3 separate regions of the Homo sapiens genome follow, and all the other regions are reported to be linked to region 2. Evidence: microRNA targets listed by miRTarBase, many of them from high-throughput screens and not tested one by one. Region 2 holds a microRNA gene; each other region holds the end of a gene's coding sequence.
The links. The annotated mature microRNA hsa-miR-4258 reads CCCCGCCACCGCCUUGG and lies in region 2 at 1,401-1,417, shown strand. An mRNA with a match to its seed (bases 2 to 7 or 8) in the 3' UTR can be bound and repressed. Matches are read on the target gene's strand: a 7mer-m8 pairs with bases 2 to 8, a 7mer-A1 pairs with bases 2 to 7 and ends in A, and an 8mer does both.

Region 1 (4,000 bases), not on the chromosome of region 2:
GCACTCTAGCCTGGGCAACAGAGCAAGACTCCATCTTGGGGAAAGAAAAAAAAAATGGAGAACATAGTTGCATCTTCATAAGGCTATGATAAATTATGAATTGGCCAGGTGTGGTGGCTCACACCTGTAATCCCAGCACTTTGGGAGGCCGAGGTGGGCGGATCACGAGGTTAGGAGACTAGGACCATCCTGGCTAACACGGGTGAAACCTTGTCTCTACTAAAAATACAAAAAATTAGCCGGGCGTGGTGGTGGGCGCCTGTAGTCCCAGCTACTGGGGAGGCTGAGGCAGGAGAATCGCTTGAACCTGGGAGGTGGAGGTTGCAGTGAGCTGAGATTGCACCACTGCACTCCAGCCTGGGTGACAGAATGAGACTGTGTCTCAAAAAAAAAAAAATTATGCAGTTAACACAGCTTGGGGACTTGCATGTAGCATGTAGTAAGCCTACTTTCCAGCAGCGTTGGGTGGAATTTCTGGAGGATCATGGAATTATCTTACCACGGTAGTGCACAATAGATACTTAAGGCTTATTAATTGAATGCCACAGTAGTACACTGGAATAATATCAACTCTTGTGTCCACAGGTTATTTGGGATGGACCTGAATAAAATGACCCACAGTAGGTTGGCAGCGCTTCGAGTAACAAAACCTTATTTGGACATTGGCTGCTGAATGGTCCTATCTGCTGGCTCTCCCCTGAGATCTGGACAGAGGAAGATGGGAGGGTGCTCATCACCCCCCCAGCATAATGATCAGCCTCCTTCCTAGAGACAGACTCATGCAGATTGAGATCAAAAGTCCCTCTGCTTGGGATCAAATTAATGTTTGACAGAGCTGGCCAGGCGTGGTGGCTCATGTATGTAATCCTAGCACTTCGAGAGGCCGAGGCAGGTGGATCACGAGGTCAGGAGTTTGAGATTAGCCTGGCCAAGATGGTGAAACCCTGTCTCTACTAAAAATAAAAAAAAATTAGCCAGGCATGGTGGCGGGCACCTGTAGTCCCAGCTACTCAGGAGGCTGAGGCAGGAGAATCGCTTGAACCCGGGAGGTGGAGGTTGCAGTGAGCCGAGATCGCGCCACTGCACTCCAGCCTGGGCGACAGAGTGGGACTCCATCTCAAAAAAAAAAAAAAAAAAAGTTTGACGGAGCTTTAAGGGATGACCAACTAAGAGAGGTTTGATGGCCCCTAACAGGAGGGGTAAATCCCAACAGGGGCCAGGTGCGGTGTCTCACGCCTGTAACCCCCGTACTTTCAAAGGTGGAGGCAAGATGGGTTGCTTAAGTCTAGGAGTTAGAGACCAGCCTAAGCAACATAGCAAGACTCCACTGTTACTAATTAGCCAACTACTATTAATTAGTACAATTAATTACCCAGGAGTAGCAGCACATGCCTGTAGTCCCAGCTACTCTGGGGACTGAGGTGGGAAGATCGCTTGAGCCCAGGAGGTCGAGGCTGCAGTGAGCTGTCATTGCATCACTGCGCCCCAGCCTGGGCAACAGAGGGAGACGGTGAAAAATGGCCAGTAGGGGCCCTCAGAGGCCACCCAGCCCTGCCAAGCCCTGGCTGCATCGGAACATAGTAATATTTGAGCTCTGGGGTGGGTGCCACTGCCATCTAGTGGACGACACTAGGAATGCATGCCAACATCCAGCAAGGAATGCACAGGACAAAGCACTTGGTCCAAAGGCAAATTGTGCCAAGTTGAGGAAAGCCTATTCTCAAATGTCACAGGATACATGGGGCAACTCAGCATTTGGGAAGAGACTGGTATGCAAGCTAACCCTCAGAATGCTTGTTATGCCAACAGCCCTGATCCTCCCTTGCTGGAGGGGATAATGTCTGAAATCTTAACGTGGCAGGCATGTCAGGATGGCCCCCTGCCTGGAATTCACTGGGCCCTGCCAAGAACTGACACCTACAAGGCCACGTGTAGGCTGGCCATAACCTATTATACACTGTGCTTTCAACAAAAATACCGCCAGATGCGGTGACTCATGCCTGTAATCCAAATACTTTCGGAGGCCAAGGCAGGCAGATCAGCTGAGGTTAGGAGTTCGAGACCAGCCTGGCCAACATGGTGAAACCTACTAAAAATACAAAAATTAGGCTGGGCACGGTGGCTCATGCCTGTAATCCCAGCACTTTGGAGGCCGAAGCGGGCGGATCACTAGGTCAAGAGATCAATACCATCCTGGCTAACACAGTGAAACCCCATCTCTACTAAAAATACAAAAAATTAGCTGGGTGTGGTGGCATGCACCTATAGTCCCAGCTGCTGGGGAGGCTGAGGCGGGAGAATCGCTTGCACCTGGGAGGCAGAGGTTGCAGTGAACCGAGATCGCACTACTGCACTCCAGCCTGGGCGACAGAGCGAGACTCCATCTTAAAAAAAAAAAAAAAAAAAGGGTGTGGTGGCTCACACCTGTAATCCCAGCACTTTGGGAGGCCAAGGAGGGCAGATCACCTGAGGTCGGGAGTTCAAGACCAGCCTGACCAACATGGAGAAACCCTGTCTCTAATAAAAATATAGAATTAACCAGGCGTGATAGCACATGCGGGTAATCCCAGCTACTCGGGAGGCTGAGGCAGGAGAATCACTTGAACCCGGGAGACAGAGGTTGCAGTGAGCAGAGATCACGCCATTGCACTCCAGCCTGGGTGATAGAGACGCCGTCTCAAAAAAAAAAAAAAAAAAAAAAAAAAGAGGAATCCATATTCCCTTGGCTGGGTGCAGAGGCTCACGCTTGTAATCCCAGCACTTTGGGAGGCCAAGGCGGGTGGATCACAAGGTGAGGAGATCAAGACCATCCTGGCCAACATGGTGAAACCCCGTCTCTACTAAAATACAAAAAATTAGCAGGGCGTGGTGGAGGGCGCCTGTAGTCCCAGCTACTCAGGAGGCTGAGGCAGGGGAACCACTTGAACCCAGGAGGCGGAGGTTGCAGTGAGCCGAGATTGTGCCACTGCACTCCAGCCTAGTGACAGAGCAAGACTCTAAAAAAAAAAAAAATGCATATTCCCATTTCAATACACAGAAACCTATATTCCCATTATTAGGAATTCGAACTAAGAATCTTTAAACTATGTCACTGCCCGGTGGGAAATCAGGTCCCCATGCTGTGCTCAGCCCACACACTGGAGATCTACAGACCAGAACCTGCAAGGAGACTGAGGCAGTTTCAGAAAAAGTGACCTTACAACTCCAGAGATCAGATACTGATTCAGTCCTGTAGACATAATTGTCCCATTGGCCAGGTGCAACAGCTCATGTCTAATTCCAGCTCTTTAGAAGGCCAAGAATTTTTACACCAACCTTAAGGTGCCGCCTGAACACAAAAAAATTATCTACTCTATGTACTACTATCTATCTACCCCAGAAGGGGTATTCATGCATAGACCCAGCTACTGAAGCTGAGGAAAAATGCTTGAGTCCAGGAAGTGGAGGCTACACCTAGCTCGACAGAACCGCTACATTCCAGCCTAGATGACATGATCGTCTACAAAAAAGAAACTAAAAATGGCCCACCATTACCACGTAAAACTGTGCCTTAAGCTTTCTGCAATCCCAGCACTTTGGGATAAGAGATTGTTTAGGTTTCAAGACCAGATTGGGCAACATAGTGGGATCCTATCTCTAAATTTTTTAAAAAGTTATTTACCCAATATTCTTTATATGTCTGCATTCAGTCCTGTTTCCACAGCTGCTTCTGAAGCAAACAGCCCTGCTTACAAACCACCCCCACCTACACCCTGCTGGCCATACAGGCTAAACCCTAAACAAGCTTAAGAAACTCAACTAAAGGCTGGGCGCAGTGGCTCAAACCTGTAATCTCAGAATTTTGGGAGGCCAAGGTGGGTGGATCACTTGAGGTCAGGAGTTTAGTGAGACCAGCCCGGCCAACATGGGGAAACGCCATCTGTACTAAAAATCCAAAAAAAATTAGCTGGGCATGGTGGTGGGTGCCTATAATACCAGCTACTCGGGAGGCTGAGGCAAA
Region 2 (4,123 bases):
GCCACTGCCAGCTTAGGTTACCGCTCCAACTTTCTCCCCGGGCCCTGCCTCCCTGGAGAAACTTTATTACACTCACTTCCGGCCTCACTAACCCCTGACCCTCTACCTCAGGGTCCCTCCTTCACGCTTCCCACTTTCCCGAGTTAGCCAATGGCAGCGCGAGATCGCGCACAAAGGCAGTGGTGGCCAATAAGACGCCTACTTTTGACCCACGCTCGTTCTTGAGAAGCGTGAGAACTGCCCTCCAATAAGGATCCGAAGAGAAGTAAATCTAAGCCAATCGGAGGCTTGAAAGTAGAGGTGTCCCGCCTCGAGCCAAACGGACCAATAGGAAGTGCGGGCGGCGTGTTTGAAAGCGAGGCCAAAGTGGGTGGGAGCGCGTGCTGTTGGGAGTTGCTTGGAGGTTGGCGGCGCGGGGCTGAAGGCTAGCAAACCGAGCGATCATGTCGCACAAACAAATTTACTATTCGGACAAATACGACGACGAGGAGTTTGAGTATCGGTTAGTGCTGGCGCGGGAGCAATAGCGAGGGTCGTGAGCTTTGGCCGCTGAGGGCACAAGGAATTAGTAACAGGAACTGAGGCGATAGAATTGGCGCATGCGTACGAGGTGCGAACGGGCAATGGTGTGATATTGTGGAAGGCGTAAGGCGCATGCGCGGAGGTGGGAGGCGCTCGTAAAACAAAGTGGTTGCGAATTTGGAGTCGCCTCTCAGTAGAGAGGAGAGAGGGGTGGGCGTGGTTAGGGTACTGACCACCCTCACCCATGAGGCTTTCTGGATCATTCTCTGAACTTTATCGGGCAAACTTAACTTGCCTTGTAGAGACTGTTTCACAGTAATCTTGTCGAATCCAGTGGGAGAACGTAGCAAAAGCGGAGCTGGAAGTTTCCTGGCGTCCCTAACAGGAGAGTAGCGCTGAGAGAGTTGAATATTGCTTATTAACTCGTGAAAAAGACAAGGGGCGTGGTTGTCTGGCTTGTGTAAGGAAGGGGATCGCTTGGGACTGCAATGGAATAAAACTGGCTAGGAGCATTGAGAAAATACTTAATATGGGTCTAATAGATGCCCTTTAAATATCAAAGGGAACAGTTACGGAATACTTAACAGGTTTCAGGTGTTCTGCTAAAGTGCAAGGATAACACATGGTCTCTGCTGTTCACAAATTTAAAAATCTGTGGGTGGTACCGACAGACACCAGAAAGGTGACACACGCTATGCAAGGAGCCATTACAGGGTGTGATGGGAGCACACAAGACTTGCTAAGGAGAGGGAACTGGCGACCCGAAGGCTGCGGCTTCCTAGCTGTGAGCGGGGGTTGAGGTGGGGCTAGAAAGTCAGTCCCCTACTTTTGCTAACTCCAGGACGCTCCCCCATCCCACGCTTCGAGAACGCCCCCCGCCCCGCCACCGCCTTGGAGGCTGACCTCTTACTTTCGGTCGGTCTTCTTCCCTGGGCTTGGTTTGGGGGCGGGGGAGTGTCCTAAGGGCCAATTCAGCGTGATGTCTCTTTCACCACCATTGAAAACGAAACCAGTAGTAAACTACGCGTGTTTTCATTTATATGTCGGAGATAAAAACACAGGGACAGAAAGAGGGGAACAACAGACATTGGGGCCTGCTTGAGGGAGGAGGGTGGGAGGAGGTAGAGGTTCAGGAAAAAAAAAAACTGTCGGGTACTATGCTTAGTACCTGGGTGATGAAATAACCTGTACACCGAACCCCCGAGTCAGGATTTTACCTATATAACAAACCTGCACATGTACCCTTGAACATGAAACTTAAAATACTGAGAGGAAAAACGGAAGAGGGAATGTTGGGGAAAGCTTCCTAGAGGGCAGAGCCTGAGATGAGACTCTAAGAAAAAGGTATGTGGGAGGAAGCACCTCTTGACTGAAATTGTTTAGAAGACACTGGATAGCCATCTGCCAAGGATGGTGATGATGGAATCCTGGCACTGGATGTGGCATTCGGGCTTGATAAATTTTAAGTGCATAATCTAGATTGGGAATAAGGGAAGACACAGGATTCCACAAATGTTGGCATTATGCTAATCTGTATTAATTGTAATAATTAAGACCACTTCCTGGTTTGTATCTTGTCTCCTCAGTTGGAGAACATAAAATGAAAACTTGCTTTTCTTGTGTCTCTTCACCCAGCCTAGTTCAGGGCTTTGGGTCTTCCAGAGAACTCGATGTGCATTGACAAATACATAATCATCTTTATGCCAAGACGGCTCCAGACCCTCCTTTAATTAACTTTCTTTTCCTCAGCTGTTTTCCTCTACATCTGAACTAAACTAACTTAAAACTGTATGTGCTTATAAGAGATTTGTGGAGCTGGGAAGGAATCACCATTTCATCCCCTGGAAGATGAAACTCTTGGCAGTGGCACTTTGGTTTAAGAGGGGTTTTTTGGTGTATGTATTGAAGCCAAATTTCGTGCCAGGGTGGTGTTAGAATGTGAGCTATTTTCATTATATTTGGACTAGAATTTTTTCTTTTAGGAGAATGGTGGGGAATCACTGTTACTAGCACAGAGGGAGAACTTAGTACATTTTCATTGAGCATGACGAAGACTATGTGGATTAGTTTGATTCACATCAGGGTAATAATTTTTTTGCTATGAAGGGAGACTTATCCTTGGTTAGAAAAGCACGGAATTTACCCAGAAAGTCTCAAGGTACATCCCTCCAGAGTTAGGAAAATAAGATTCAGGATAGATTTAATTTTTTTTTTAAGAGACAAGGTCTTGCTTTGTTGCCCAGACTGGAGTGCAGTGGCTATTCACAGGCACAACCATTGTGCATTGCAGCCCTTTCTTTTTTCTTATTTTTTTTCTCTTTTTTTGAGACGGAATCTCACTCTATCGCCCAGATCTCAGCTCACTGCAACCTCCGCCTCCTGGATTCAAGGGATTCTCTCCTGCCTCAACCTCCCAAATAGCTGGGATTACAGGTGCATGCCACCACACCCGGCTAATTTTTGTATTTTTAGTAGAGACGGGGTTTCACGTTGTTGGTCAGGCTGGTCTCCAACTCCTGACCTCAAGTGATCCACCCACCTCAGCCTCCCAAAGTGCTGGGATTACAGGCATGAGCCACCGCCCCTGGCCTATTTCTTCTGTATTTTAATCAGATTTCAAACTTCATACTGTATCTTTTTCAAACTCCTGGGTTCAAATGACCCTCCTGCCTCAGCCTCCCAAGTAGCTGGGACTGTAGGTTTGTGCCACCATGCCTGGCTTAGATTTTAAAGGACAAGATAGTTCATTTCATCCTTTGTAATAACTTGTCCACACAGTACTTCATAAAAGGCCTTTCCTCGCCACAAAATAACTTCTCTTCCTTCCTTCTAATTATTAACACTGTGTGCTCCGTGGGGCTCCCATTATGTTGTAGATAATCAACTAGAAGACTATAAGGTCCATGAAGGCGGAGAAAATGTGCCTTGAACTTAAGTGCTCATTCACTGGAATTATTCACTAATTTGTATTTTTAATATACTCTCGGAATTTATATAACATAGCCTGTATTTCTAGCTGCTGCTACCCCACAATAAAATTATATAAACTCTGACATCAAAAACCAGTTTTTCTTTCCTTTCTTGGCCTTGTAAACAGGCATTTGTCTAAGAGACTGTATCTGGTACTAACATAAATTCCCCACTTCCCCGTTTCTGTTACAGACATGTCATGCTGCCCAAGGACATAGCCAAGCTGGTCCCTAAAACCCATCTGATGTCTGAATCTGAATGGAGGAATCTTGGCGTTCAGCAGAGTCAGGGATGGGTCCATTATATGATCCATGAACCAGGTCAGTGCACTGGCTAAAAACAACCATATAGAACTGCTACACTGAGAGAATGAAAGAATAAGATTGTATAACCCAAATAGGGAGATAGGAAATGGTTTACTGGTTCCTTCCCCCTCCAGTCGTGGGGGATTTTTTTAAAAAAAAACTAGTGACCAAAAATAAGACTAAAATATCTGGGAAGTTCAGAGACAACCTGTCACTGAAAAACCTCCTGTAATCTTTCATTCAATCAGAGGGTATTCTTTTTAAGGCCACATATAGCCTGATCATAGCCCCTGCCTCATTCTCCATCGAAAACATTCTTGGATGTG
Region 3 (4,000 bases), not on the chromosome of region 2:
TGTTAGCCAGGATGGCCTTGATCTCCTGACCTCGTGATCCGCCCATCTCGGTCTCCCAAAGTGCTGGGATTACAGGCATCAGCCACTGCACCTGGCCCATAATAGCCTAATTTCAAACAGTAGAAAGAGTTCAAATCTCCATCAAATAATGAATGGACAGACAAACTGTAGAATATTATTCAGCAACAAAAAGTGATGAGGTATTAGGCTGGGTATGGTGGCTCACACCTGTAATCCCAGCACTTTGGGAGGCCTAGGCAGGCAGATCACTTGAGGTCAGGAGTTCGAGATCAGCCTGGCCAATATGGTGAAACCTTGTGTCTATTAAAAATACAAAAATTAGCTGGGCATGGTGGTGCATGCCTGTAGTCCCAGCTACTCGAGAGGCTGAGGCAGGAGAACCGCTTGAGCCTGGGAGGTGGAGGTTGCAGTGAGCTGAGATTGTGCCACTGCACTCCAGACTAGGCACCAGAGTTAGACTCTGTCTCAAAAAAAAAAAAAAAAAAAGTTATGAGGTACTAACAAATGTTAATTTTGGGTGGGTGGTATTTTTTATAGTGACAGTTTGCCCAGGCTAGTCTCGAATTCCTGGGCTTAAGCGATCCGCCCATCTTGGCCTTCCAAAGTGTTAGAATTACAGACATGAGCCACTGTGCCTGGCCTAGAAATTGATTTTTTTTTTGGACAGGGCCTTGCTCTGTCACCTAGGCTGGAGTGCAGTGGCATAATCCTAGTTCACTGTAACCTCCAACTCCTGAGCTCAAGGAATTCTCCTGCTTCAGCCTCCTGAGTAGCTGGCACTATAGAAATGTGCCACCATGCCCAACTAACTTCTAAATTTGCAGACAGGGTCTTGACATATTGCCTATGCTAGTCTCAAACTCCTGGGCTCAGGCAATCTCCTCGCCTGGGCCTCTCAAAGTGCTGACATTACAGATGTCAGCCTCCCTGCCCAGCCGGCTAGCTGAAAATTTAAACCACAGATGAGTATTCACTCCAGCCCCACCAGATAAACATCATAACACCCCAAGTCAATCATCTTTCACTGCCTTCTCTAGCCATTTTTTAACCAGCTTGGGAAGTCTACCCTGTTCTCTCCAGAAAGCCTTTTGTAATAAACATTCTTATAATACTTTGATGTAGAGTACCACCAATCCTGAAATCTAAACCAAACTTTGCACGGGGTTCCCTCCTGTTCCAGTGGAGTGGCGACAAGTGCAAATCAGTAAAAAAAAATGTTTTGGGGGTAAATACATGAGGTTTCTAGTTTCTTTAAAAAAAAAATCCATTGCTTATGTTCATTATTAAGGGGAAACTCATGAACACTGATTTTTTTCAAATTATTTCACGGAGTGCTCCAAGTACAAAAAAAGAAGTTGTGTTATTATTTCAGAAATTTCATTTACTAATAATTTTCATATGCTTACATTTGTTATTTTCCTCTCATGTAAAAGGCATGCAGAAATAAAGTTATGTAGAAAAAAAGGCATGTAGAAATATAACTGCACAGTGCATATTCATGAACAGGAAGACAGGTTTCAGGGGGTCTGATATTGTCCCACTATGGCATGGCATTTTCATTATAGCCATAGAAGTCATCTAGGGCAGAGTGTGGAGAAAATATTTCAAGTGCAAATTATGAATATATACTTCTTAAATTGTATACTGTTTGAACATAACATGGATAGAAATTGTTATAGATGACATTCAACCTTGAGAGTCTAATGATGTATTATAGTGTTTGATATTAAGTGTCCCAATGAGGTGGGATATGCTTGGGTTGACGGAAGGCACACGATTCATTCAGGGTTACTAAAAATGATTATATTTTACTAATTAAGACATAAGAAGTATAATATATTCTAAATAAAATGGTATCAAATGCAATCTCAGGGGCCAAATGTGAATCCCCTATAAGAACACTACTCTGGTTCTTTTGATGGAACTGTCCTCTATGGTAACCATTCTCTCTTCAGTTTCCAAAAATAAGACCTATCTATGTTCAATAATCTGTGATATGCAACAGTAACTACCTTTCAAGAGAGGGTGACTATCATTCCCCCTCCATTTCTTTCTACCACATATGCAGTCTCTAGTAACCGACCATTTCACTTCCATGAAAATCTCTCAATGTCCCACCCTACTCTTCTTGTTTCATGGTCATCTTGTACTGTAACCAATCTCTCCTATAATCGACAAAGGTCCCCAGTCACATCAACAATTCTAAGGGGTCCTGACCACATAAAGCATATATGTTAGACAATAGTTTTACCTCTCTTCTGGCACAAACCCCCATGCTCTTATAGTATATTGTATATTAGTGTTCTTGGCTGGGCACGGTGGCTCATGCCTGTAATCCCAGCACTTTGGGAGGCCAAGGCAGGTGGATCACCTGAGGTCAGGAGTTCAAGATCAGCCTGGCCAACATGGCGAAACTCTGTCTCTACTAAAAATACAAAAACAAAAAAACAAAAAACTAGCCAGGCATGATGGCGCATGCCTGTAATCCCAGCTACTCGTGAGGCTGAGGCAGGAGAATTGCTTGAACCCGGGAGACAGAGGTTGCAGTGAGCTGAGATGGTGCCACTGCACTCCAGCCTGGGTGACAGAGCAAGACTCTGTCTCCAAAAAAAGAAAAAATTAGTGTTCTTGCTTTTTCCAGGTTTCAGTAATATAAAGAAGCCACACCTAAGGAAGTAGTCCCTTCCATCTTACATCCATTCCTTGAGACAATCATGATAAATGAAAAGCATGCCATGAAGATTTAACAGCAACAGATTTCATACTTTTAAAAATATGAAATAACTGAATAAAAAATTTTTAACACTGAAGTTACATCTTTCCACAGATGTCCTTGCTCCTCTGACACACACCATGAGTTTGTGACTTTTTAAAATTGTCTGTGAATTTAACATCAATCACTTAATCTTCAAGAAGGAAAAAAGACTTAGTTCCCTCTAGCCTGAATTTTTGTATGACAAAATGCTTGCATATAAGGATGAATTTCCATTGAGAAATTTAAAATAATTTACCACCTTCACTTGTAATGCTTCTCTCCAATATGAATGGTGTATCCTGAAGTCAGAACATTGCTTAAAGGACTTGCCACATTTGTATGGTTTCCATCCTGAATGTCTTCTGTTATAACCATAATAGGGTAAATATTTTTATAAAGCTGTTCACATTCATTATATTTGTAAGGCTTCTCTACAGTAAGAATTCTATGATGTTCCACAAGGCTTGAACTTTGGATAAGCCTTGCCATACATGTTATCTTTGTGTGGTTTATCTCAAAGATGTATATTCTGGTATCAAGTGAGACATAAGCCATAGCTAAAGGCTTTACCACATTTTCGTTTTATATGGTTTCTTTTCACAATGGAGCCCCTGATGCTAGGTACAGCTTGAATACTTAATTTTTGTCTCATTATATTTGATATGTTTTTCTCTATTATAACTTTTTTGATGATCTCCAAGGTTTGAACTTTGGAATAAAGCATTACCATGTATATTATGTTTACAATGTTTCTTTTCAATGTGTATTTTCTGGTGTCTAGTGAGGTTTGCAAATTGGGTAAAAGCTTTGCCACATTCAGTACATTTGTAAGGTTTCTCTCCAGTATGGATTTTCTTATGCTGAGTAAGATTTGAACGTTCAGTAAAGGCTTTGCCACATTCAGTACATTTGTAAGGTTTCTCTCCAGTATGAGTTCTCTGATGACCCCAAAGGTGTGAACGTTTGATAAAAGCTTTATCACATTTATTACATTTGTAAGGTTTTTCTCCAGTGTGAATTCTCTGATGTTCCACAAGACTTGAACTTTGGATAAAAGCCCTGCCACACACATTACATTTGTGTGGTTTCTCTCCAGGATGTATATTCTGATGCCTAGTGAGATGTGAGCACTGCTTAAAAGCTTTGCCACACTCATTACATATGTAAGGCTTCTCTCCAGTATGGATTCTCTTATGTTGGGTAAGGCTTGAACGTTCAGCAAAG

Region 1: the mRNA of NLRP12 is a reported target of hsa-miR-4258. The part of its 3' UTR that is shown has no 7-base or 8-base seed match.
Region 3: miRTarBase lists ZNF677 as a target of hsa-miR-4258. The part of its 3' UTR that is shown has no 7-base or 8-base seed match.

Annotation. Positions count from the first base shown.
Region 1 is chr19:53,790,722-53,794,721 of GRCh38, reverse strand. NLRP12 (NLR family pyrin domain containing 12) reads left to right here. Exons shown (of 10, transcript NM_144687.4): 10 at 586-981. The coding sequence ends at 673. Among named protein-coding and RNA genes, the nearest start is that of MIR373, 4.0 kb to the right of the region's middle. RefSeq lists enhancers at 1,575-2,075, 2,076-2,576.
Region 2 is chr1:154,974,303-154,978,425 of GRCh38, forward strand. MIR4258 (microRNA 4258) reads left to right here and starts at 1,391; the gene lies at 1,391-1,481. CKS1B (CDC28 protein kinase regulatory subunit 1B) reads left to right here and starts at 379. Exons shown (of 3, transcript NM_001826.3): 1 at 379-502; 2 at 3,685-3,812. The coding sequence starts at 444. It also overlaps a transcript of SHC1 not described here. RefSeq lists enhancers at 1-24, 475-624, 725-784 and a silencer at 115-204.
Region 3 is chr19:53,233,579-53,237,578 of GRCh38, forward strand. It overlaps ZNF677 (zinc finger protein 677), which reads right to left. Exons shown (of 5, transcript NM_182609.4): 5 at 1,803-4,000. The coding sequence ends at 3,394. Among named protein-coding and RNA genes, the nearest start is that of ZNF677, 19 kb to the right of the region's middle.